3 separate regions of the Homo sapiens genome follow, and regions 2 and 3 are each linked to region 1. Evidence: fine-mapped QTL for protein levels in blood plasma. A gene starts in region 1. Each other region holds a variant in brackets. All regions are shown on one strand. Distances are between the middles of the regions.

Evidence for each region. A credible set is the group of variants that fine-mapping cannot tell apart. PIP is the posterior inclusion probability: the model's chance that the variant is causal. The UK Biobank Pharma Proteomics Project read protein levels with antibody pairs (Olink). The fine-mapping took linkage between variants from a reference panel, not from the people measured, so its PIPs are less certain.
Region 2: its variant is the best candidate, but not a certain one, in a credible set for the plasma level of the CALB1 protein (UK Biobank, PIP 0.72).
Region 3: its variant is the best candidate, but not a certain one, in a credible set for the plasma level of the CALB1 protein (UK Biobank, PIP 0.52).

Annotation. Positions count from the first base shown.
Region 1 is chr8:90,078,504-90,086,695 of GRCh38, forward strand. CALB1 (calbindin 1) reads right to left here and starts at 4,376. Exons shown (of 11, transcript NM_004929.4): 1 at 4,116-4,376; 2 at 3,523-3,599. The coding sequence starts at 4,194.
Region 2 is chr8:90,108,289-90,116,480 of GRCh38, forward strand. No RefSeq gene overlaps it. Among named protein-coding and RNA genes, the nearest start is that of CALB1, 30 kb to the left of the region's middle. The variant A/G (reference allele first, on the strand shown) is at 3,067.
Region 3 is chr8:89,152,496-89,160,687 of GRCh38, forward strand. No RefSeq gene overlaps it. Among named protein-coding and RNA genes, the nearest start is that of PARAIL, 600 kb to the right of the region's middle. The variant A/G (reference allele first, on the strand shown) is at 3,550.

The DNA.
Region 1 (8,192 bases):
TGATGGTGTTAATAACTTACTGCAAAGAAAAACCAAAATTAGAACCATTTAGAAATATGCATAATGATTAACTATTCTCAAAAAAATTAAAGGCATAACTGATACACAGTATTTATTAGTTCCAAATGAAAGAGTTGTAATCATGATTATTTCTCAATTAATATGATTTATCTTCTATTATTAATTTTGAGACTATGCTATCCTTTGAAAGTGTAGTCAGAATCATTCCATTCATAACTTTTAGTGAATTTTAACATAATCATCACCATCAATATATTTTAAACAATGCTTGCTTCATTAAAGATTACCTTATATTGCTACACTATCTTGTCTTACAACATTTTTCTCATTCTAACATAATGTTTTATCTATGGAGAGTAATATATGTTTTCATTTTGAACAAGCAAAAAATGTGAATGTTAAAGATTAACTCACTTTGTAAGCAAAGATTGTTTTAAGCATAAAAGAGGCATTCATCAATTAAATAAATTTAAAAATTAAATAGATTAGAGAGCTATGAACTATAAACTAGTGATCTGAACATAGAACTGGTATTCAGGAGGTTTAATTTTTACCCTTGGGTCTCCAACATAGCCCATTTAAAATAGCCCTGTTGCATTAGCTGAAGCCTATTTAAAATAGGTCAGCCCTTACTAATGTTCTATTCTACGTCCTTGGGAAAGCAAATTAAGGTCTCGGTTTTCATCATAGCTAACAAGATGGTGGTATTATCTACCACACAAGTTTGCTTTGGGGATAGATAGGTTAATATAATTAAAGGGCTATATTGAGACTAAATATCATTATTACTAGTATTTATAAAAGCCGTTTGGAACCAATGTAGACATCTTTAGTTGAACTAAGATAATAAATAATAACAAAGCAATATAATTATATTTTAGTCTTTATAAAACTTACTATGGATAAATTACAATTTGTATTTATCTAATTTTGTTATAGAAACAATTGTAAGAAAATGAAAGTGTTCAACCATGGCAATAGTGGGAATATCAGGTCCTACAGTTTTTTTATTTTTACATACATCTTAACGTAAACAAAAACCAAAGCATCTGTCCTTAAATTTTAAAATGGTGTAATACCACTACTTTCACGAGCAGACTTGACATTTACTTTGTGAAGTTTCTGACAAGTATGTCAAAATCTATTTTTTAAACAGTGCAAAACATATAATCACCACCAATTAAAAATGTATAAAAATGAGTGCAACTACAAAGACCAAACACTATGTTTAGTGTAAAAGGATAGTTTCTGAAAATATATTGCATTGTTATATTTAATTAATGTTATATTCACCTAGTGAAAATTTTGAAATTTCATGTTATTAATACGAAAAGCCAAACAATGTTTCCATTAATGCAATGAAATCTGTTATCCTATGGCTAGAAATGCAAAAAGCCTGGTTTATAAGGGCAATTTTTATGTTCTAAAGAAAGAGAAGAAATATATACAAGTAGGTTTAATGCAATGAAGTTAGTAGTATAATGAAACATGTATCTACTATATGAAACTCTGAATCCACATCTTGATTTAGATTTTAACTACCCAAATCAAGAAAAATACTAAATTCAGAAAAATCCAGATTGTATTTACATTCCAGAAAAATGCTCAAGAATCAAGGTATTAAGCAACTTGATATAATCCTATAACTATGCTTGTTTAGTATCATTACATTATAGTCTAATAATTGGAGCTTTGAATATTCCAAAACAGAGAAAAATAATTAAATTCTAAATCTCCAACATGAAGATATTGCTTACAAAAAGGTACAAATATTAAAATCAGAGGAAGAAAAATATTTTTTTAAAGTTCATGAATATTTAAATTTCTAAGCTGAAAATAGATTTCAATATTAAAATTACTTCTGCACAAAATAAAATATAATCATTACCTGCTGGAAGCATCTTCCAAGGTTTTAATTCTAAATTTTATGGAAAGTAAGACTTTTCCAACCTGATTTTAAAATATGTATTTTTAAATGAGGAAGATAATTGCTTTTATTAGATTAGCCAAAGATATATAAAGCTATAATGACAGTATTGCATAAATTTATTTACATGGCAATATATAAGACATGGGGAGGGTGGAGAGTATATAAAACATTTTTATGCTATTTTATTCCGTTCTATTATACTTTTAGATTATATAATATTAAATCTGGGTAAAACAATCCCTAGAGCACAATCTGGTTTAAAATCAATTTGGTCAATGATTTTTGTAACTGATAGTTCTATAGTGCATTATAATACATTTAGAGCCCTCTGGGATTCTTTTGAATATGCTGTACAGAAATGTATATTACACAATTTTCAATTTAGATAGGGCAAAAAGTTCTATTATTAAATTTTATATATATCACTCAATATTAGAGGTGGTGATCTGCTATATAATATATACATCATTGGTAGTGTAAAATCTCTTTCTAAACGTAGTCAAAAAGGCCAAAGACCATTAACGTGTAACTCATCCCAATTCAACACTGCCTTCTGAAAGGCAGTGTTACATAAACCTCAATAGAGTAGTACAATTTTTAACCCATTTTCCTCTGGACAACCATCTCATCTATGTTTAAAAGCTGACTGTATTTTATATTTATGCTGACAACATATTTTCTTAACAGGTTAATTTATGCCCAAAGGGAGTCATTTATAATTAATAAGAATGGTTATTTGTTTAATTAACTAATGGCTTAAATAACGAACATAGCCATTTTCAAAACACCATCAATTGCTGCCCATCAGAGTATCACTTTGCTTTTTTTACAATACATGAAATTCTTAAAATTGTTTTACTTTTTACTTCTCTACCTTTTGGGTTTCTTGCTTTCAACAGAAATGAAGATCTTTTCTTGCTAAATTCTTTCTCACTGTTAGGTTGCAAGTTGGGCAACTTACCCTTAGTGAGGACAAGATGTTTTCTCATCTCCCCAACTACATCAACATCACAACAATAATAATTGGTGATAGAGTAAGAGATCCATAATCTGCAGATCTGTTTCTTGACCACCAAGGGGCAGAAATGCATTTCCACCCCCTTATTTCTCACACAGTAAAAGAGAATTTAAAAATTACCTAATCAAACTCAGTGGTAGAGGTGGTGATCCGCTAAAGAATCTCATGCACCCACAGTTCCCTTTTAAGACCTATTAATGCAAGTACTAGTATAGAATATATATATATTTAAAGCTCCAGTTTCAGATAGCAAGGTTTTTCCCTTTAGAAAATCTGTCTCTCTCTGTCTGTCTCCCTTTCTCCCTTCTTCCCTCCCTTCTCTGTCCCTCCCTTCTCTCTCTCTCTCTCTCCCCCTCTCTCTTTCTCAGTCTCTTTCCCCTTTCCCATTTCTCTGTATTCGAGTTGGAAAAGTGTTTTTTCTTGCCTTTCGCAGTCAATAAACGTTTACATTACCCAGAAAGCGCTTTACGCTACTGGCTTTTTGTGAAAACACAAGAATGTTTTAATTTGGGGGTTAAAAGTCTTTTTTTCTTTTTCGCAAACTTGAACCTACCAATCCAGCCTTCTTTCGCGCCTGCTGGAGCTCCTGGATCAAGTTCTGCAGCTCCTTTCCTTCCAGGTAACCACTTCCTGCAAAGACAAAGAGGCACCCAGGTGTCAGATATCTCATTCCAAGTGTCTTTCCCGTTCACTTTCCAAGACAGTTATCTTTCTGGCGACCCGAGAGGCTCTCTCTTGCCTGGACGTTGATTAACCAGCAAAGTGTACAGACGGTGAAGCGCTCCCCTCCTGGGGTATCAAACTTTAGATCCACTGAGGACAAAGGAGGATGGTTGGGGTGCTAAGCGCAGCCACAGAAACTTTGGGGGGGCAGCATTCCCCAATCCCTGCTCTCTCTCTCCTACCATTACCGTTCCTGGAAAGACAAAAGTTTAAGGTTTTGGGATTACGGTGGAAACAATATAAACTTTCAGGTTGACAGTTTGGCGGCCAGTCGGGGAGATAAGAAGATAAGATTAGGCAGAAGGGGGAAGAAGTAAAGAATAGAAAGGAGGGATAATGGGATCAGGAGGCTCAGAAAAGGGCAAAGAATGGGAAGGGGCATGGAAACGGGTCTTGAAACAGTTAAAAAGAGAAGATAATCACCGTCAGCGTCGAAATGGAGCCAGATCTCGAAAAACTGTGAGGCTGTGATGAGGGATGACTGCAGGTGGGATTCTGCCATTGTACAGCGGGGTGTGTGTCTGGGTGTGTGAATATGCGTGTGTCTGTGTCCGCGCGAGGGGGAGTGAGCAAAAGCTCAGCGTGTGCGCGAGTCAGGGCTGCGGAGGGAGACCTGGGCGCGGGCGCTGCCGGGCGCTGTCCTCGGTGCTGCTCAGCTCAGCGTTCCTCCAGAGTTCTCTCCCTACACCCCGCACCCAGTTCTCAGTATTTATCCCGACGGCCCCAAGCCGGGCCACGCCTCCTCCAGCCTCCCATTCCTCACTCCCCGCCTCTTGCTCTCACCAGCCTTCTTCCCCTCCCTTCCAGTTTTCTGCTCTGTTCCCAGGAAAGCTAGCTGGAGCGAGAGTTTGGGCTTGTTGGAAGCAGCAGGTGGTGGGAGATCCTTTGCTCAGAGATTGGATGCTGAAAACAGAGGCTCATTTCCCCCTACATCCTCCTAGTCCAGGAAGAATCTTATTCCTGAATATTATAGTAAAACTCTTGTTATCTAGAGAGGTTTAAATGTTCAGATAGAAGGGGAAAGCTGATGACGGGTAAAATCACATAAAAGATTATTATATTCTTGTGTGATTTCTCCAAGACTTTTCAGTATTTGTTTGAAAAAAAAAAAGCATGTGAAACCTTGGCACGCATTAGAATAATTTGATTAATGTATACAATGAGTTGATTGCTATCAATAATCACTCTATTTTGTGCCATCATGTCAATGTTTCTTAAGATGGTTTCTATGAACTAACCTTGCCAACACGAAAAAAGCTAGATTATGGATTTCTTTTCAGCATGAAGTAGAATTATAATTGGAAAGTAATACAGTTAAATTATAAAACCTTAAAATCTTAGATAAGGAAGTCATCTTACAGATACTAGAGTTTACTGCCTTTCAGTTTAGAAGGAGTGAGTAAACTAAAACAAAGAGAAAGGAAGGATCTGACCAGGTTCATAAGTAGGTACGTTAGTGCTACCACCACAGCCCCATTCAGTCGCCTTAACACACACGTCTCCTTCTTTCTGTTTCAAGCAACCCCTACTGGAGAATTTTTCAGAAATTGGAAGTCACCATCAGAGTTGGAAAAGCTATCTAACTAAATGTATGCTATGTTATGTATATATATATATATATATATATATATGTAATATATATGTATGTATACACACATATGTATATATGTTCTGTACTATATATACATATGTATATGTGTTATGTATTTTAATATAATTAATTATATACTTGGATTATTTCTTATTTACATAAGTACTTCTGGAGTATTTGGCTTTGAGTCTTTTGGACCTTGAAGTCCACTAAAAATGTATCCCAAAAGTCTAATTACAATTGTACTAAAACAAAATGAAGGAACAAGAGAAAATCTACACATAGCCAATATAAGCTTAAAGTGAATTAAAATGAATTTACCGGCCGGGCGCGGTGGCTCACGCCTGTAATCCCAGCACTTTGGAAGGCCGAGGCAGGCAGATCACAAGGTCACGAGATCGAGACCATCCTGGCCAACATGGTGAAATCCCGTCTCTACTAAAAATACAAAAATTAGCTGGGCATGGGGGTGGGCACCTGTAATCTGAACTACTTGGGAGGCTGAGGCAGGAGAATGGCTTGAACCTGGGAGGCGGAGGTTGCAGTGAGCCAAGATCACGCCACTGCACTCCAGCCTGGTGACAGAGCAAGACTCTGTCTCCAAAAAAAAAAAGAGAGAGAGAGAATTTACCAAGCTCTATATTCTTAACCTTGTGTAATTGAGTTTGGGACCCCTCAAATTTATGTTTTTGAGATTAGGGCTCTATCCATTATTATATTTGTGGAGTTTTTTTGTAAGTATCCTTTTCAGAGACCCATCAATTTGAAGCTAGCCTATTTCAATAATCTTCTTAATGGAATCCTCACTTCCATAGTACTTTCCAGTTCATACATTATTTTTACTTATGATACCTCATCTGATTCTCACTGATGGTCCTATTGGTCCTATGTTAGTGGCCAGGGTCGCTGTGTGAAAAATATAGTGTGTGAACTTGGAGACCAGCGCTAGAGAATAAACTTTGAAGAGAGAGTGAGAATGCAGTGACTAAGGAATGACTTGAAGAATCACTCTGACCCTTGCTAGTCTTGACAGAGCTAACAATGTCTAGACTTTGGATACAGTTCTGAGACAAAGAAAAATGCTAGAAAAAGTATGTAGGAATATGGACTGAACAAACTGATGAAAAAAGAGCAACATTTCTACTATTTTAAAAAGTAATTAAAATTAATTTTCTTCCTAAAAAGAGACCACACACTGTGGTAAAAATTCCTAAACATTTTCACCATAATCTGTTTGTTGGTTTTTTAGAATTTTATCTTAACTTCCAAAAGTATTACAAGACAATTTGTAAAAGTTAAAAATATTTATATGAAAGTAATCTTTTTTCTTATTCACTTTCCTGAAGCTATGGCAACTTCCAAATTTCCATTTAGAAATGTATAGGTGCTGTGACTTGAGAGAGAGTGAGAAATAAATGGGAGACTTCCTTGGAACTATGTCCAAACAGCAAGTTTGGACATAGTTTTTTTTGTGTGTTCTTTTTATGTTTATATGAAGTGGCTTTTGAGGGAACTAATGTAGATTATGGAGCTCTAAAGCAGTTTAGTGCTGCCCCTACCATGAGGTAATCAACACTAAAAGAGCCATGCTTATGGAAATATACAAATCCATATCTAAAGGTTTTTTTTTTGTTGTTGTTATCTGGTTTTACAGAAAAGGGACTATGTTTTGTATATTATCCTTCAACTTTCTATTATTAATTCAAGGGCATCCCTCCAGTATTAACATCAACATCTAATGTATACTTTTTACAGTTTAATATTTTATTAATTAACTATAATTACAGATATACGGATCTATTTCTAGTAGTACACTGTGACACACAATGCTGCAATAAACACCTTTATACATTTATATTAGCTATACATGTTTCTGAATACAACAGGGCAGAGTCCCAAAAGCAGTATTTTTAGTTAATAGAATGCATATTTTAGATTTTAATACACATTTCCAAATTATTTGCTTCAATTTGTAGCAATTTATACTCAAATGTCCAAAGTCTGAGGATGATTTATCCTCATTAACTCTGAATGTTATTGCTTTTTAAACTTTATACTAATGTAATAAGTAAAAAGTAGATTGTTATTCTTCCTTTAATTTTCATTCAATATTAATTTTTTAAAATTTACCTTTTGGTTTTCTAAGGTGAACTTGTTATTCTTCAGATATTTTTTCTAATGGCAGAAATGTAATTTCATAAAAAGTGTTTTCCCTTAAAATTGTTATTGGTCCTGGACTGTCACTTCAAATCAATATCTCTTTTCAGATGTATATTTGGGCCATTTCTAGATTAAATTATACTTTATGGTAGTAGTAAAGAACTGTATAATCCAGATCTACAGATTTGAGGTAACTTGAGGAATATTTCTTCCCTCGTTCATTAACTAGGTAGGAAGGACCTTGCGCTCAGGAATCTTTTAATTTCTAGGATTCTGGGGAGACTACAAATGCTTTCAATAATGAGAAGATTTTTCCATAAGATTGGAGTTTCTAAAAACAGCATTGCAAACAAAGCATTTTTATGACTTGCTTTATAGGCTTCATTACACAACATCAAGGTGAATGGGTTCATAATCCAATATTGTTACAAAAGTAGAAGCAATTTATGTTCCAAAAAAAAATCTCTGGGGTAATTAAACTGCATTTCCCATTTCATGTTACTGAATTACCACATCTCCATTCATATTCAGGCTACCACAGTTCCAATTCACTATGCAAATTGGAAGACTTAGAACTTCCCAGGTTTAATGAATGCTTTCTTAGCCTCCACTCAGGAAAGAAAACCCTCCAAAATATTTTACTATGGGTTTAATTGGATGAGGAGTATAATGCATCACTCTCTCTTGGCATCCTAGTCCCTCACGGAGGTGTCCTTAATAGATGAATGAAGCCTGCTGGGGGAGTTCAC
Region 2 (8,192 bases), 30 kb after region 1:
ATAATCCTAATTCCTCCATTTGATTCCCAGATTCATTGTAGTCATTCAGTTCACATATATTAGCATGCATAAGTATATATATAAAAAGTGTACATAATTAGACACATTGTTGCTATTGTTATTTTGAACAAACATTTGTTAGACTAAGAAAATAACATGTTTATTTTACATTACTTATTCCTTCCTCAATGCTCTTCTATTCTATATGTAGATCTGAGTTTCTGACATATCATTTTCCTTCCCTCTGAAGAACTTAACATTTTTTGCAAGGCAGATGTACTGGCAACAAATTTCCTCATTTTTGGTTGTCTGAGAAAGTCTTCTTTTATCCTTCACTTTTAAAGGATAATTTCAAAGGATACAAAATTCTAGGCTGGTGTTTTTTCTCTCAACACTTTAAATATTTCACTCAAATTTTTCCATGCTTGCACAGTGTCTGAGGAAAAGCTGAATACAAGTTTTCTTTTTGTTCCTTTTACAGGTAAGGTGCTTTTTTCCTGTGGCTTCTTTCAGGGTTTTTTTCTTTATCTTTGATTTTCTGTAATTTGAAAATGATTTACCTAGGTGTAGTTTGTTTTTTGGTTTGTTTGCTTGTTTTTTGGCATTTAGCCTGCCTAGTGTTCTCTGATCTTCCTGAATCTGTGGTTTTATGTCTGACATTAATTTGGAGGAAATTCTCAAACATTATTGTTTCAAATATTTCTTATGTTCTTTTCTCTGTTTCTTCTTCTGTATTCCCATTATGAGTACGTTACATCTTTTATTATCGTCCCATAGTCCTGGGATAGTCTGGTTTTTTTTCACTTTTTTTCTCTTTGCTTTTCAATTTTAAAAGTTTCTGTTCATATATCCTCAAACTCAGAGATTCTTTCCTTAGTTGTATCTATTTGATAAGCCTGCCAAAGGCATACTTTAATTCTGTCACAGTGTTTTTGATCTATAGCATTTCTTTTTGTTTCTTCTTAGGAGTTCTGTTTCTCTACTTACATTGTCCATCAGTTTTTGCAAGCCGTCTATCCGTTAGAACTTTTACATATTCATTGATGTTGTTTTAGATTACTGGTCTGATAATTCCAATATCCCAGTCATGTCTGGCTTTGGTACTTGCTCTGTCTCTTTGAATTGTGTTTTTTACCTTTTGGTGTGCCCTATAATTTTTTTATTTTTGATAGTTGGACATCATGTACTGGGTAGAAAAACTGCTATAAATAGGCCTTTAATAATGTGGTGGCAAGGTGTGTGGGGAAGGGAAGCATTCTATAATTCCATGAATATGTCTCAGTCTTTTAGTGAGCCTGTGCTTCTGGCCTGTGAACTTCACAAATGTTTCTCAGGTTTTTTCCTCCTCCCTTAGGTTGGATAGGATGGTTAGAGTGGGCTGGAGGAGTTGGGTGTTTCTCTTCCTTCACATAGAAGGCTAGAGTGTGTTGGAGTTAGAGATTTGTTTTTCCCCAGGTCAGCTAGGCTCTGATAATACCCCAGCAAGTTAGTGTCTGGTTAACTAGTTTCCCCTGAGGGCAGGCTTTGTTAAGAAGAACAGAGTGCTCTGGCTTATTTCAGAATGGTTCAATTTCCCCCACCCCGGCGAAGAGCAAGAGGGGATTTTTCTGTGATATTTACTTAGAAATCTGGGAACTCTTAGAGGTGAATCTGACAATATTGTGTGTGTGTGTGTGTGTGTGTGTGTGTGTTGTAGGGGGTGCCCATTGATGGTGTCTCTCTGGAGTTTTTAACCCTCAGACTTGTCTGCACTGAGTCTCCAGCAACTTGTCAATTACAGTTCAGGTTTTCCTGCCTTTCCACAGTTTCCACTTGTCATTCTCTGCTCCAGAAACTTGTGACTCCCTCTTTTAGCCTGTCTGTTTCTCCAGTTTTGGGATCAGCAGTTTAATCTAGTGACCTTACTGCTCTTACATACACAAAAAGAGTTGTTTTTTCAATCTATTTAACTTTTTACTTGTTTGGATGGAGTGGTCGTTTCCAAGCTCCTTACACGCAAAACCAGAAAACCCATCATTAGAATTTTGGAAGAGAGGAAACTTTGTTTTTACTTTGAAATTTCTTCAGTAGCTATAATCAAGTTCCTGGGGCTTTAACAACCCCCAGTACGTAATTCTCAGTCTACTTGCTATTCAGTCAAGTTTTAAGTCAAGTTTCCCAGTCGCTCCATCCAATCAGATTCTCCTGTATAAAAAAATTTAAGGAGCCAGTTTATGCTGTCGTATTTTATGAATGTACTTTTGGTTTACATGTTAGTGGGCATTTAACTCTGGCTTCTTTTTACTTTTTCCAATGAACCCTCTAAGAAAAAAGAGTTTATAGCTGTGTCAATAAAAGAAAAAAAATGCTGACGTCTTACTGTCACTTATGCTAACAGACAATTCGTCTGTTTTCATGATTAAAAATTTTTTTACCAGGGATGACAGTCTGTAAATGTGGGCATGAAGCAGGCCGGTATGCCAACTAACTGTTCTTGTACATGAGAAAGCTAGGATATCAGAATATAAAAAATATTTTGTATATTTTTTTAGTTTCAGTTTTCTTTAAAATAAATTTTTTAGTCATCCAGCCCAAAATGTCATCTTTTTTTTTGTTTTGTTTAGGGAAAGAAAAATAGTAGATTCCAAATGCATTCATTTCTGGTTTAACTAGTGTTAGGGAGGATGTGGGTTGAAGTTGAATATGTAGAAAGGGAGATAGAACAGCATACATGGGTAAAATTCATAACAACATCAATAGTGGACTTACATCTCTTTTTGAGAGTTTGGGGAGTTTAAACAATTCAGCATTTTTTAATGTTATCCTATTATACATTAAAAGATAACTTTTATCCCAGATTAAGCACTGCAGGGTAATCGAAAAAGCACAGGCTTTGCAGTTAGGAAAACCTACTTAAAATCTTGATTTTGCTACTTGCTAATTGTGTGACCTTGGTCAAGAGTAGTTCTAAAATCTGAAAAATGGTGGTTTCTACCTCATTTTGTTGTAAGAATTAAAAAAGAACCATATGTAAAGTGCTTGGTGGGATGCTAGCCAGTTCAAGTAGCTGGTGTTTAATGCAGTTAT[A/G]ATAAGCATCTATTAAGGTTAACATATTAAAGTGCTCAATTTAGACTCAAGATTCTTATCTTAAGATGCATCTAATCCTGATACATTATAATTGACTAGGGCAACCATTCCCATGCCCTTTATGTTAGAAAAATTCCATGGTGATTTTACTGGTGCATGATTATTGGATGGTTATTGTTAATTTCCATTCATGGGTCATAATTCATTAACCACAGGTGCCATTTTGAATGACCTTTTGACTTCCACATCGCAAACAATGCCAGCATGAAGCAAAGTGAGGTCTGTTGATCATAAGCGATAAGTACATTTTTGAGGTACTTTGTGATTGCCAAAGCTGAGTGCAGTCTCAGTGACTCTTAGGTTATCAAAACCCCTTTCAATTAGCTATGGCACAAAATCAATAAATCTCCTGGGAAAAATGTCTTCAAGGGAGATGAAAAAGGAGTATTTTAAGGTCTCAACAAAAATGAGAGTAAAATATGCTAATCAGTAACAAATAAAAAAAAAGAGAGAAAGAAACACTGAAAATCCATCTGACACAAAACAAATTTTATTCTAAGATCTTTGTGTTTGCATTTTCAGGAAACAAAACATTAAGAATGTTCCCTGGCCATTAGGGAGCATTGGAAAGTTGGATTCTTCTCTATTTTGTTTCTGGGAATAATGAAGTTTTGGTATACGCAGAGCTGAATCAGATTGAAAGATTTAATTCCTCTAGGAAAGTGTTGTTTTTCATTGTTTTTTCTTTTTTTCCTTTTTAACATCATGTATGTGCCCAGGGAGAGTCTTGATGAGCACTAAACAAATATCTTGTTAGTTAGATGGAAAGCAATTAGAATGTTCTTATATGCACAGCACTCAGCACCGTGGTGTTTGGTGTCATGGAAATGCAAATTAACTAAAGCACCAATAATTATAATGTTAATGATGATAAGCATTGTTTAAAAATTATTTGAAGATAAGCAGAGTTATCTATAAGTAGATAAACATGCACTAAGTATATATGTAGATATGTGAGCATATATAGAGCCATTTTTCACTTTATGAAATATATTTACGTTAATGAAGTTGAATTTCAACTGACTTTCCAAAAGCAAATCATATTTTCTAACCCATTCCACTTACATAATTGGAAATGTTTTTCATGGGTGATAATGAAACTGAACAGCAAATACTGGTCTGGAATTTGTTAATAAAGTTTTTATTCAGCAACAATTTTTCAGCAATCACTATGTGCCCTCCACTGTATATAAGTTGGGGATGCAATACTAAATCAGGCGCTCCCTGTTTTCAAGGGGTTTTTTCTTTAGCTAGAAACACAGAGAAGTAAACAAGGAATTTCAACACCATGTGATATGTGTTATAGAAAGATACTATAGAGCCCTATGGGAGAACACAGAGGGTACCTAATCCAGTCAACCGTGGCAGGAAAAGTTTCCTGGATGTGATGGTATCTAAGCACAAGAAGGAATTATGTAGGCAAAAGTAGAGTCGAAGGTAGATTTGGGGGTTAGTGCTGATGGTGGATGTAGTGATGGTGGTGGTGGTAAAGGGAACAACATGTACAAAAGCACAGAGCTTAGAGGGAGCATAAGGTCCTTCTGGGCCTGCATCTTTTAAGTATTGCTGAGAGAATTTAATGTGGGGGAATGGACGGAGTTTGATGGTGAGATATGAGGTTGGAGAGGTAGGCAGGGGCCAAAATAAGAATAAATCTATAGCCTGTGGAAGAAGAATTGCCATTCAGTGGTATGCTAGTAAACTGCTCTTGGAATAAAATGCTCTGTTTTGTAGTACTTGCCCATTTCTGTGGTGTAAATACTCCCACCATGGCTGTATGCTACCGATAATTGAACAACTGGCTTGCAAAATGTTTTTTTCTGGATATTTAACAAGTGGCTCTTGAGAGCCAGTTCAAGCTGGTTCCATTCATCCCAGAACTCACTGCTAGAGACTAGATCAGCATAGATCTGATATTGGGATGGAGACTACAGATAAAAAGACAAGCAGATGTACTGGTTATTGTAACCCAGCAATACTTTTTATAACCTTTCCTTTTGTAGGCTGCAACTGAACCTTACCTCCTCAACTCCAATGCATGCTTTTATACTCACAAAATCTGCAGCTCATTTTACTATGGGATACTTTCAGTCTTGTGTGAGCAGAACTTAGAATCTTAGTATTATTATAGAAGAGATCTTTGAAATTTTCTAGCACAACTCTTTAAGAGTTTAGGAAACGAAGCTCATGTTACAACTAATATTTGCAGAACCAGTTATATATCCTCTATATCCTCTATGACGTTTCCAGCCTTCCCCACCTCAGCCATTAGCCATCCTCAGAATCTCCCTAACCCTACAATTTCTTTACACTATCAGTCACTTAATTTTAGTTCTTTGCTCCCCATCTAAATATTTATGATTCAACTAAGCTGCAAGATCATACTTTGCTGGTTTCAGACTTGGAGTTCCCTTATTTTAACATTGTAGATGTTCTTAACTGTTTTGTCTTTTGGTTGTTAAAAGCTTAAGTATGATATGTGTTGGCGTAAATTACTTTGGGTTTATCTCGTTTGTGATTTTGTTTAGCTTTTTAAATACGTGGGTTTATATCTTTTGCCAAATTTGAGAAGTTTTCAACTATAATATTGTTTCGTTCATTATTTTTGCAGGCCTACCTTTTTTCTCCTCTGCTTCTGGGACTTCAATGGCACAACTGTTAAATCTTTTGTTATAGTACCATTTGAAACCCTGTTTAACTTTTTTTCAGTCTATTTTCTCTCCATTCCTTAATTTGGATAATTTTAATTATTCTGTTTTCAAGTTCACCAATACTTTCTTCTGTCCTCTCCATTCTGATATTATGGCTGTTGCTGAGATTTTTTGATTTTTTTTTTGTCTTATGAGATTTCACTTGGTTCTATTTTATACATTATATTTTATACTTCCTATTTCTTTGCCAAGAACTATTTCTTTGCATTTTTGTGATGGCTGCTTTAAAAATCTTTGTTAGATAACTTTACCCTTTGTGTCACCTCTCTGTTGGTGTTGTTGATAGTATTTTCTCATTCAAGTTGTGATTTTCCTGATTCTTGGTATGATGGGAGATTTTTTATTGTATCCTGCATATTTTTGGCATGATGTAGTGACACTGTGGATTTGATTTAAATCTTATGATGTAGTAGGTCTTTTCTGACACTGCAGCTCTGGGCAAACATGGCTGCAGCCTCATTACTATCTCTGGAAGGTAGAAGTGCAAGTCTCCCCTCAGCCTCCACTGAAACCCTAGAGTAGGGGTAGAGTGTCTCTCTGTTGGTGGATATAGGTGGGAATCAAACCTCCTTGCTGGCTGCATTGACACCACTCTGGTTGGGAGGGAAGGGGAGGCTGTTTACTGCCCACATGTGTCTTCCACTGACATCATGTGGGTGGGAGTTACTGTCAGGTGGGATGAAAGTCCTGCTCCCCAACTCCAACTTCTCTGATTAACCTCCCACCCCCCAGCGGGAGGGGTGCCTTGTTATAGCTGGATAAGAGTGGAAGTCTATGTTCCTTTCTTGGCTTTTGCTGGCAGGTCTGGGGTGTGCCATAGTTTTCTCTCTTTGGTTGGTTGTAGTAAGTCTTCTGTTTTGTTAGGCTGCCATTGTTTTTGATCCTTTGGCTACAAAAAGTTGGCTGTTCTTGTTTTTTTTTTTAACCTGTTAACTGGCTTTCTGGGTTGTTGGCTTCTTTAGCACTTAAAGTGTTCTAAAAAATCTGTATGCCTTTTCACCTTTTATTAAAGAGTTATCTTTAAGGCCAATGGATAAAACATTTAGAGATTTTAATTTCAAAATTTGAGAAAAAGAGTGAAAGTCAGAACTGTCCAGAAATGGAATCTGGACAGTGGGATTCGTAGTAAGTGGAATATTCTGTGTCATTAGCTGTTGTAGACGAAATTAAAAAATCAGAAAAGGGATTGCACTAACATTTAAAAGGTCTCTTTCAACTCTAAATATCTGATATTTGGAAACCAGCAGCTTCAGAAAGTCTTCCTTAGTGAAGAGAGTTGTGGCATTGAGGCATCACAGGTTGAAGATGTATTCCATGATCCTTCCATTATGCAGTGTTTTCTTATTTACACAGTAAAGATTAAGAATAGCAGAGGGAGGATGTGGGGTTGTAAAGGAGTGTGAAGTAGCTTATAAGAGCCCAGGAGGCTGGGCTGTGTTTTCACGATGTTTATATTGTGTTTGGCCTGCTAAAAACTTCATGATCAGTTATAAAAATGTTTCTGATATTTAGCCCACATAATTTTTCTGTATCCTAGACAGGAAAAAAGAAAGCATTGGCCTTTATATAAAATAAATGTGTGTGTGAATTTATAACAAAGTATTTGGAATGATTTACGAACATTTGGATCTCAATTAATGAAATATAAATTTTTGCCTACATGTATGTAATACAATATTCCATTATGCACTTGTCTGTATCTGAGAAGTCATAATTATCCTTTGAGAATATATTTATTTTAGCCACATGTTGGAACTAGGGAGATCCATAGGTAATAGCATTCTTAAATACTGGAGATTCTGGATTGTGTAATTCCAAATGCTCTTTATTATGGAAATAATATAATGTGATTCAAAAGCAAATACATTATATGATGGGCATCTCAATAAAGTGTTATATGGAAAAAACCCCAAAAACTAAGGTACACACCCTTAAAAGGTTAACTAGTTCATCTCTTGATTCCTGTGAACTTGAAAAAGGTCTGTATTGCCATAGGGGATGATAAGGAAATTAGTCAGTGTAATTAGAATTTGCTAATGCAAATCTGTTGTTATTCAGCTGTGGAATTACCCCCAATGAGACTTATTTGCCATGTCATCAGCTATGCATATTTTCAGCTAGCCACATTGGGGGCTCCAGCAACACTAAAGACCAATTTGGCATTTGTTCTCAAGTGTCATTTTCATTAACATTGGTGGGTGTAAAGCATAAACAGTGAAGGAAAAATTATTTCCCTTTGCAGTTATCATGAATTGCAAAATGAGAGAAGTGGCAAAGCAGTGGTATTTTGTTTTGTTTTGTTTTGTTTTTTTACTTTTAAGGATTTACTGAGCAATATCGCTGCAGGGCTTTTTG
Region 3 (8,192 bases), 930 kb before region 1:
TGTATGTTTATTGCAGCACTGTTCACAATAGCAAAGACTTGGAACCAACCCAAATGCCCATCAATGATAGACTGGATAAAGAAAATGTGGCACATATACATCTTGGAATACTATGCAGCCACAAAAAGGATGAGTTCATGTCCTTTGCAGGGACATGGATGATTCTGGAAACCATCATTCTCAGCAAACTAACACAAAAACAGAAAGAACAAGAACATAAACCAAAGCAAACTAACACAAGAACAGAAAACCAAACACCAAACCAAACCCCGCATGTTCTCACTCATAAGTGGGAGTTGAACAATGAGAACACATGGACGCAGGGATGGGAACATCACACACGGGGCCCTTTTGGTGGTGCCTAGGGGAGGGAAAGTGTTAGAAGAAATACCTAATATAGATGATGGGTTGATGGGTGCAGCATACCACCATGGCATGTGTATACCTATGTAACAAACCTGCACGTTCTGCACATGTATCCCAGAACTTAAATTATAATAATAAAAATAAATAAAAAATATTTTCTCTACTTCTTTGAAAAAAAAAATGATCCAAGCTGAGAATATTACTTGTAATCAGATACAAACTGGGTATGACTGTCAGCACAGCCCAACTAAAATATATATATTTTTCCACTTTGTTAGGGGATGGAGAAGTCGAGACCAGAGATGGAAGGCCTTCTTAGTACACAACTGTTCATCTTAAGTGGCAAAATATCCAGACACAAATATCTTGTCTCAGAAACAAAAGAGAAGAGGTAGCATTTGGTGTCACAAAGATCCCTAATATGGTTTCACTCTGTGTCTGCAGCCAAATTTCATGTTGAATTGTAATTCCCATGTGTTGAAGGAGAGGCCATGTGGGAGGTGATTGAAACATAGTGATGGACTTCACTCTTGCTGTCCTTGTGATAGCGAATGAGTTCTCACAAGATCTGGTTGTTTAAACGTGTGTGGCACTTTCCCTTGCTCTCTCTCTCTCTTTCCTGCTCTGCCATGGTAAGATGTGCTTTCTTCCCCTTTGACTACCACCATGATTATAAGTTTCCTGAAGCCTCTAAGCCATTCTTTTGTACAGCCTGTGGAACCGTGAGTCAATTAAACCTATTTTCTTCATAAATTACCCAGTCTTAGATAGTTCTTTATAGCAGTGTGAGAATGGACTAATACAATACTTTTCACCTGAATAGGTCCCCAGAACTTTTCCCTCCACTCTGTTTCAGGAATTTGTGCAACGCATTAAGGCACCTCAATTCCTCCAAGAGTGGAATTGGAAGGGAGGAGCCATCTCTCCATTACCTCCATACTCACACCACCATGCAGTATGGCATTCAGAGAGCTCAGTCACTAGTCACCAACTAGTCTTCTGAGCAGCAGTTGAGTTCACAGCTCTTGGAGCAGCATGGAGAGAGGAAACACCTCCATGACAAAGGAAGCAGACCAGTCACTCCACCCCACAGAAACTCACAAATGTTGGATCTGTGGATAGGCAATACAACCCCTGAAGAACTCAAAAATACTGAGAGATAAGTTTTAAAATTTTGCAAGGGCAACACTTCCTTCAGAAGCAGACTGTATTCAAAATACAATTAGATTGGTTACACTATCACTGTCACTACGTTGTGTGATCTACTGCTTCATATTTCAAAGGACATCTTTACATGTATTATTTTATTAAAATAATCTAGAAAAATGAACATTCACCCGTTTCTCCAGTTTTACCAGTGAGTTCCAAGTGAAGTACACTAATTCAGTAAAGAAGCAGTAAAAAGTGTGGCATGAACATAATGAAATTGCCTACCTTTCTGGGTGAAGCTAAGAATTATGAGGCTTCAGAGCATTTCCCCAGAATGAGAACTAGATTCTCCTGCTTCATATGTCCCAATCAATGGCACAACTGCCCACCCTCTATCCCTGCAACTAACCAAAATCCAGATATTTTTATACCTTTGAAGGAAGGACAACATTCACAGAGATTCAGTTTCAGTGAGTACGTTATGAGGGGCTAATGGAGAACAGCTGCATTCCAAACTTATTTCTTTATGGTGAGCTAATAAAGGATAGATTGCTCACAGGGTGAAAAGAAGTGTGAAAATACATCTGAATCTTTGAAACACTGCCACAGATGACAGCAAAATAACTATGCCAATAAGATTTGAGGACATATTGCAATCTATGCCACTGTTGCCCACTCTATATGAAAACACAACACAATTACAAAAACTAAATAACATTTATTTAACATTTATTAACCTCTTATTGTGCATCAAGCTCTGTGCTAAACTTCGGGAATTGAAAACAAATAGAACACTATCCGTCTCTTCAGGAGCTCACATTTTGTTGTCTGTTGGAGACAGATAATTGAACAAACAATTATAATAGTGTGGGAAGTGCTATAATAAAACCATATGCAAGGGCTTACAGAAACACAGAGGAGTAAATCTCCAATTCTGCTCATCTTTCAGAAAACAAAAGAAGAGATTCCTCCAAAAAGGCTTGCAAAATAAAAATTAAACCAAAATCATAATTAAAGCCAATTTCAAGTGACTGTTCACTCTGATCTAGGAACATTGCTAAGCACTTGACATAGATTATCTCATTGAATCCTTATAACTCTCCCTTTGTTTGGGGTCTTATTCCTATACCCATTTCACAAGGTACATGGTGTCAGTATTAAAAGTCACCATAGAGGTTTGAAAGTTGTTAGTATTCTCATGGTACTATAGCTGTTTTTCTTTTTTTTTTTTTTAATTATCACAATCCATCTTAAATAAGAGTTCTCAACAGAATATACATTTTTTTCAGCACCACACCACACCTATTCCAAAATTGACCACATACTGGGAAGTAAAGCTCTCCTCAGCAAATGTAAAAGAACAGAAATTATAACAAACTATCTCTCAGACCACAGTGCAATCAAACTAGAACTCAAGATTAAGAATCTCACTCAAAACCGCTCAACTACATGGAAACTGAACAACCTGCTCCTGAATGACTACTGGGTACATAACGAAATGAAGGCAGAAATAAAGATGTTCTTTGAAACCAACGAGAACAAAGACACAACATACCAGAATCTCTGGGACGCATTCAAAGCAGTGTGTAGAGGGAAATTTATAGCACTAAATGCCCACAAGAGAAAGCAGGAAAGATCCAAAATTGACACCCTAACATTGCAACTAAAAGAACTAGAAAAGCAAGAGCAAACACATTCAAAAGCTAGCAGAAGGCAAGAAATAACTAAAATCAGAGCAGAACTGAAGGAAACAGAGACACAAAAAACCGTTCAAAAAATCAATGAATCCAGGAGCTGGTTTTTTGAAAGGATCAACAAAATTGATAGACCGCTAGCAAGACTAATAAAGAATAAAAGAGAGAAGAATCAAATAGACGCAATAAAAAATGATAAAGGGGATATCACCACTGATCCCACAGAAATACAAACTACCATCAGAGAATACTACAAACATCTCTACTCAAATAAACTAGAAAATCTAGAAGAAATGGATAAATTCCTCGACACATACACTTTCCCAAGACTAAACCAGGA[A/G]GAAGTTGAATCTCTGAATAGACCAATAACAGGCTCTGAAAGTGTGGCAATAATCAATAGCTTACCAACCAAAAAGAGTCCAGGACCAGATGGATTCACAGCCGAATTCTACCAGAGGTATAAGGAGGAACTGGTACCATTCCTTCTGAAACTATTCCAATCAATAGAAAAAGAGGGAATCCTCCCTAACTCATTTTATGAGGCCAGTATCATCCTGATACCAAAGCCGGGCAGAGACACAACCAAAAAAGAGAATTTTAGACCAATATCCTTGATGAACATTGTTGCAAAAATCCTCAATAAAATACTGGCAAACTGAATCCAGCAGCATATCAAAAACTTATCCACCATGATCAAGTGGGCTTCATCCCTGGGATGCAAGGCTGGCTCAATATACGCAAATCAATAAATGTAATCCAGCATATAAACAGAACCAAAGACAAAAACCACATGATTATCTCAATAGATGCAGAAAAGGTCTTTGACAAAATGCAACAACGCTTCATGCTAAAAACTCTCAATAAATTAGGTATTGATGGGACGTATTTCAAAATAATAAGAGCTATTTATGACGAACCCACAGCCAATATCATGCCGAATGGACAAAAACTGGAGGCATTCCCTTTGAAAACTGGCACAAGACAGGGATGCCCTCTCTCACCACTCCCATTCAACATAGTGTTGGAAGTTCTGGCCAGGGCAATCAGGCAGGAGAAGGAAATAAAGGGTATTCAATTAGGAAAAGAGGAAGTCAAATTGTCCCTGTTTGCAGACGACATGATTGTATATCTAGAAAACCCCATTGTCTCAGCCCAAAATCTCCTTAAGCTGATAAGCAACTTCAGCAAAGTCTCAGGATACAAAATCAATGTACAAAAATCACAAGCATTCTTATACGCCAACAACAGACAAACAGAGAGCCAAATCATGAGTGAACTCCTATTCACAATTGCTTCAAAGGGAATAAAATACCTAGGAATCCAACTTACAAGGGATGTGAAGGACCTTTTCAAGGAGAACTACAAACCACTGCTCAATGAAATAAAAGAGGATACAAACAAATGGAAGAACATTCCATGCTCATGGGTAGGAAGAATCAATATCATGAAAATGGCCATATTGCCCAAGGTAATTTATAGATTTAATGCCATCCCCATCAAGCTACCAATGACTTTCTTCACAGAATTGGAAAAAACTACTTTAAAGTTCATATGGAACCAAAAAAGAGCCTACATTGCCAAGACAATCCTAAGCCAAAAGAACAAAGCTGGAGGCATCACACTACCTGAATTCAAACTATACTACAAGGCTACAGGAACCAAAACAGCATGGTACTGGTACCAAAACAGAGATATAGACCAATGGAACAGAACACAGCCCTCAGAAATAACACAACATATCTACAACTATCTGATCTTTGACAAACCTGAGAAAAAGAAGCAATGGGGAAAGGATTCCCTATTTAATAAATGGTGCTGGGAAAACTGGCTAGCCATATGTAGAAAGCTGAAACTGGATCCCTTCCTTACACCTCATACAAAAATCAATTCAAGATGGATTAAAGACTTAAATGTTAGACCTAAAACCATAAAAACCCTAGAAGAAAACCTAGGCATTACCATTCAGGACATAGGCATGGGCAAGGACTTCATGTCTAAAACACCAAAAGCAATGGCAACAGAAGCCAATTGACAAATGGGATCTAATTAAACTAAAGAGCTTCTGCACAGCAAAAGAAATTACCATCAGAGTGAACAGGCAACCTACAAAATGGGAGAAAATTTTCGCAACTTACTCATCTGACAAAGGGCTAATATCCAGAATCTACAATGAACTCAAACAAATTTACAAGAAAAAAACAAACAACCCCATCAAAAAGTGGGTGAAGGACATGAACAGACACTTCTCAAAAGAAGACATTTATGCAGCCAAAAAACACATGAAAAAATGCTCACCATCACTGGCCATCAGAGAAATGCAAATCAAAACCACAGTGAGATACCATCTCACACCAGTTAGAATGGCAATCATTAAAAAGTCAGGAAACAACAGGTGCTGGAGAGCATGTGGAGAAATAGGAACATTTTTACACTGTTGGTGGGACTGTAAACTAGTTCAACCCTTGTGGAAGTCAGTGTGGCGATTCCTCAGGGATCTAGAACTAGAAATACCATTTGACCCAGCCATCCCATTACTGGGTATATACCCAAAGGACTATAAATCATGCTGCTATAAAGACACATGCACACGTATGTTTATTACAGCATTATTCACAATAGCAAAGACTTGGAACCAACCCAAATGTCCAACAATGATAGACTGGATTAAGAAAATGTGGCACATATACACCATGGAATACTATGCAGTCATAAAAAATGATGAGTTCATGTCCTTTGTAGGGACATGGATGAAATTGGAAATCATCATTCTCAGTAAACTATCGCAAGAACAAAAAACCAAACACCGCATATTCTCAGTCATAGGTTGGAATTGAACATTGAGATCACATGGACACAGGAAGGGGAATATCACACTCTGGGGACTGTTGTGGGGTGGGGGGAGGGGGGAGGGATAGCATTGGGAGATATACCTAATGGTAGGTGACGAGTTAGTGGGTGCAGCGCACCAGCATGGCATGTGTATACATATGTAACTAACCTGCACATTGTGCACATGTACCCTAAAACTTAAAGTATAATAATAATAATAATAATAATAACAAAAAGGAAAAAAGAGAAAAAAAGTTAAAGTTTTTTTGATATAATACTACCACTACAGTTTAAACTTCTAAAAGGAAGTGACTTATGTCTAGTTTCAAACTGATGTAATTCACATAGTAGCATCTCAATACATTTTGTTTTAAATTTAATGAAGTCATGTGAAAATGTTCCAGTGCTGTTAAGAGGCTGTTATATAATTTTAAGTCTGAGATGTTGAAGGAAGGAAGAATAAGAACTGGAATAACAAAACATGAGTATAATGTCATTAAGGTTCACTATAACATGGTCAGCAGGCACTGAAGAGAAACAGTAACGATAAAAAGAGCTTGTCCAATAAAACTTTGTCTGGTTTTCTCAGTGCTCACATTGTGCTCTGGCATCACACTTCCACTTCATGATCAGGACATGTCCTTATATCCATATTGTGCTTCCCACGTTAAAATGTACTTTATCATATCTTATTGTGCAAATAGAGTCAATCTCAGGACCTATGATTATCTCTCTAGAGTACAGAAACTATTTTTGGACTGCCTCTTTTCCTAAATTTTCAGCTCCAGCCTTGTGTTTACCCATGGTGTACTTAGATGGATATAATAATAAGCATCACTGAGTTTCAGAATCTGGAACCTCCTAATACCAGTGCTACCTATTCCTAAAAGGGGCCACTGATGATCTGGAACATCTTCTCCAGCTGCCACCACCCATGAACTATGCAAGGAAGTGAAACATAAAAGGATGGAATTGGTAGCATGACCCTGTTCTATGTTGTGTTCTCTCCAGAAGTAGAAGAAAGCAATGGCATGAAAGTCAAGAGATGGTTACCATATGTCTTACTCTTAAAATTAGTTACAGTCACAAAAGGAAAGCTAAAATAAAAAAATACGTAATTGGTATAAATGGCCACTCTCACTTTTAATAGTGTTCAGGTTTTAACTAGGAGGCCAAAGCTTTTTAGAACCTATAGATTTCTTATTTCCTACAAACTCTGTGTGTCAGTGTACAGCTAAAAATTACAGGGAAATTGCTATCGCAATCACATCAGGGAAATGTAATGGCTAAAAGCTTCACAGACGGCTTCCAGTCACGCAAAGAAGGATGTGTTAAAAATCTAAATTCCTGAGAGAAACTGCTGCCTTATCCTTGAGGGTTCTAAAAAGTACAATGAGGAATGAAAACTGACTATTGGATTTGGCAATGTGAAAACTTTGTTAAGAGTGGCAAAAACAGCCTCTGTTGAAGTAGAGAAAAACGTCTGTCTAGACTTGATTCAAGAGAGAATGAGAGCAGAGACTTGAATAAAGCATAGATGAATTTTTCATATAAAACAAAGAGAGAGAAAAGGATCAGTAGCCATATAATTAGGTTGGGAAGACAGAGGGGCTTTTTTTATCTCTTAAGGAGGGAGAAATAAAAATATGTTATGTTGATGTGAATAATCCAATAGAAAGAGGATAACTGATAATTCAGGAAAGAAAAGGGAGAATTCCTAAAATAGGAAACTAAAATAAGTTTCAGCACACTAGTAGAAAGGTTGTCTTTGTCAGGAAAGTGGAAATAGGACTCACATTAAAGATGTAAATGTAAGAATGACAGGACATAAAATCTTATAATAAAAAAGCCGAGTTTGCCAAACTCATGTGATCATGGTACACTTTTGTTGTAGTACGTTTTTCAGCCTCTCCCAGAATATGCTTGTGCCATATTCCTAATCAATGTACTATCCAGTAATTACAACCATGAAATTGTTATGAGTCATTTCTACTTCTCTCAATATGTCAGTCAAGACAATCCAAAGATCCAGTCACTACATACAACACACATACGTTGAAGACCTACATCCTTCATGAAAGTGTGGGCTAGTAATAATCTGTCAACTGACAAAGAAAATAATAAAAAGCATGCCTCCCTCAGCCTTAGTTTAGG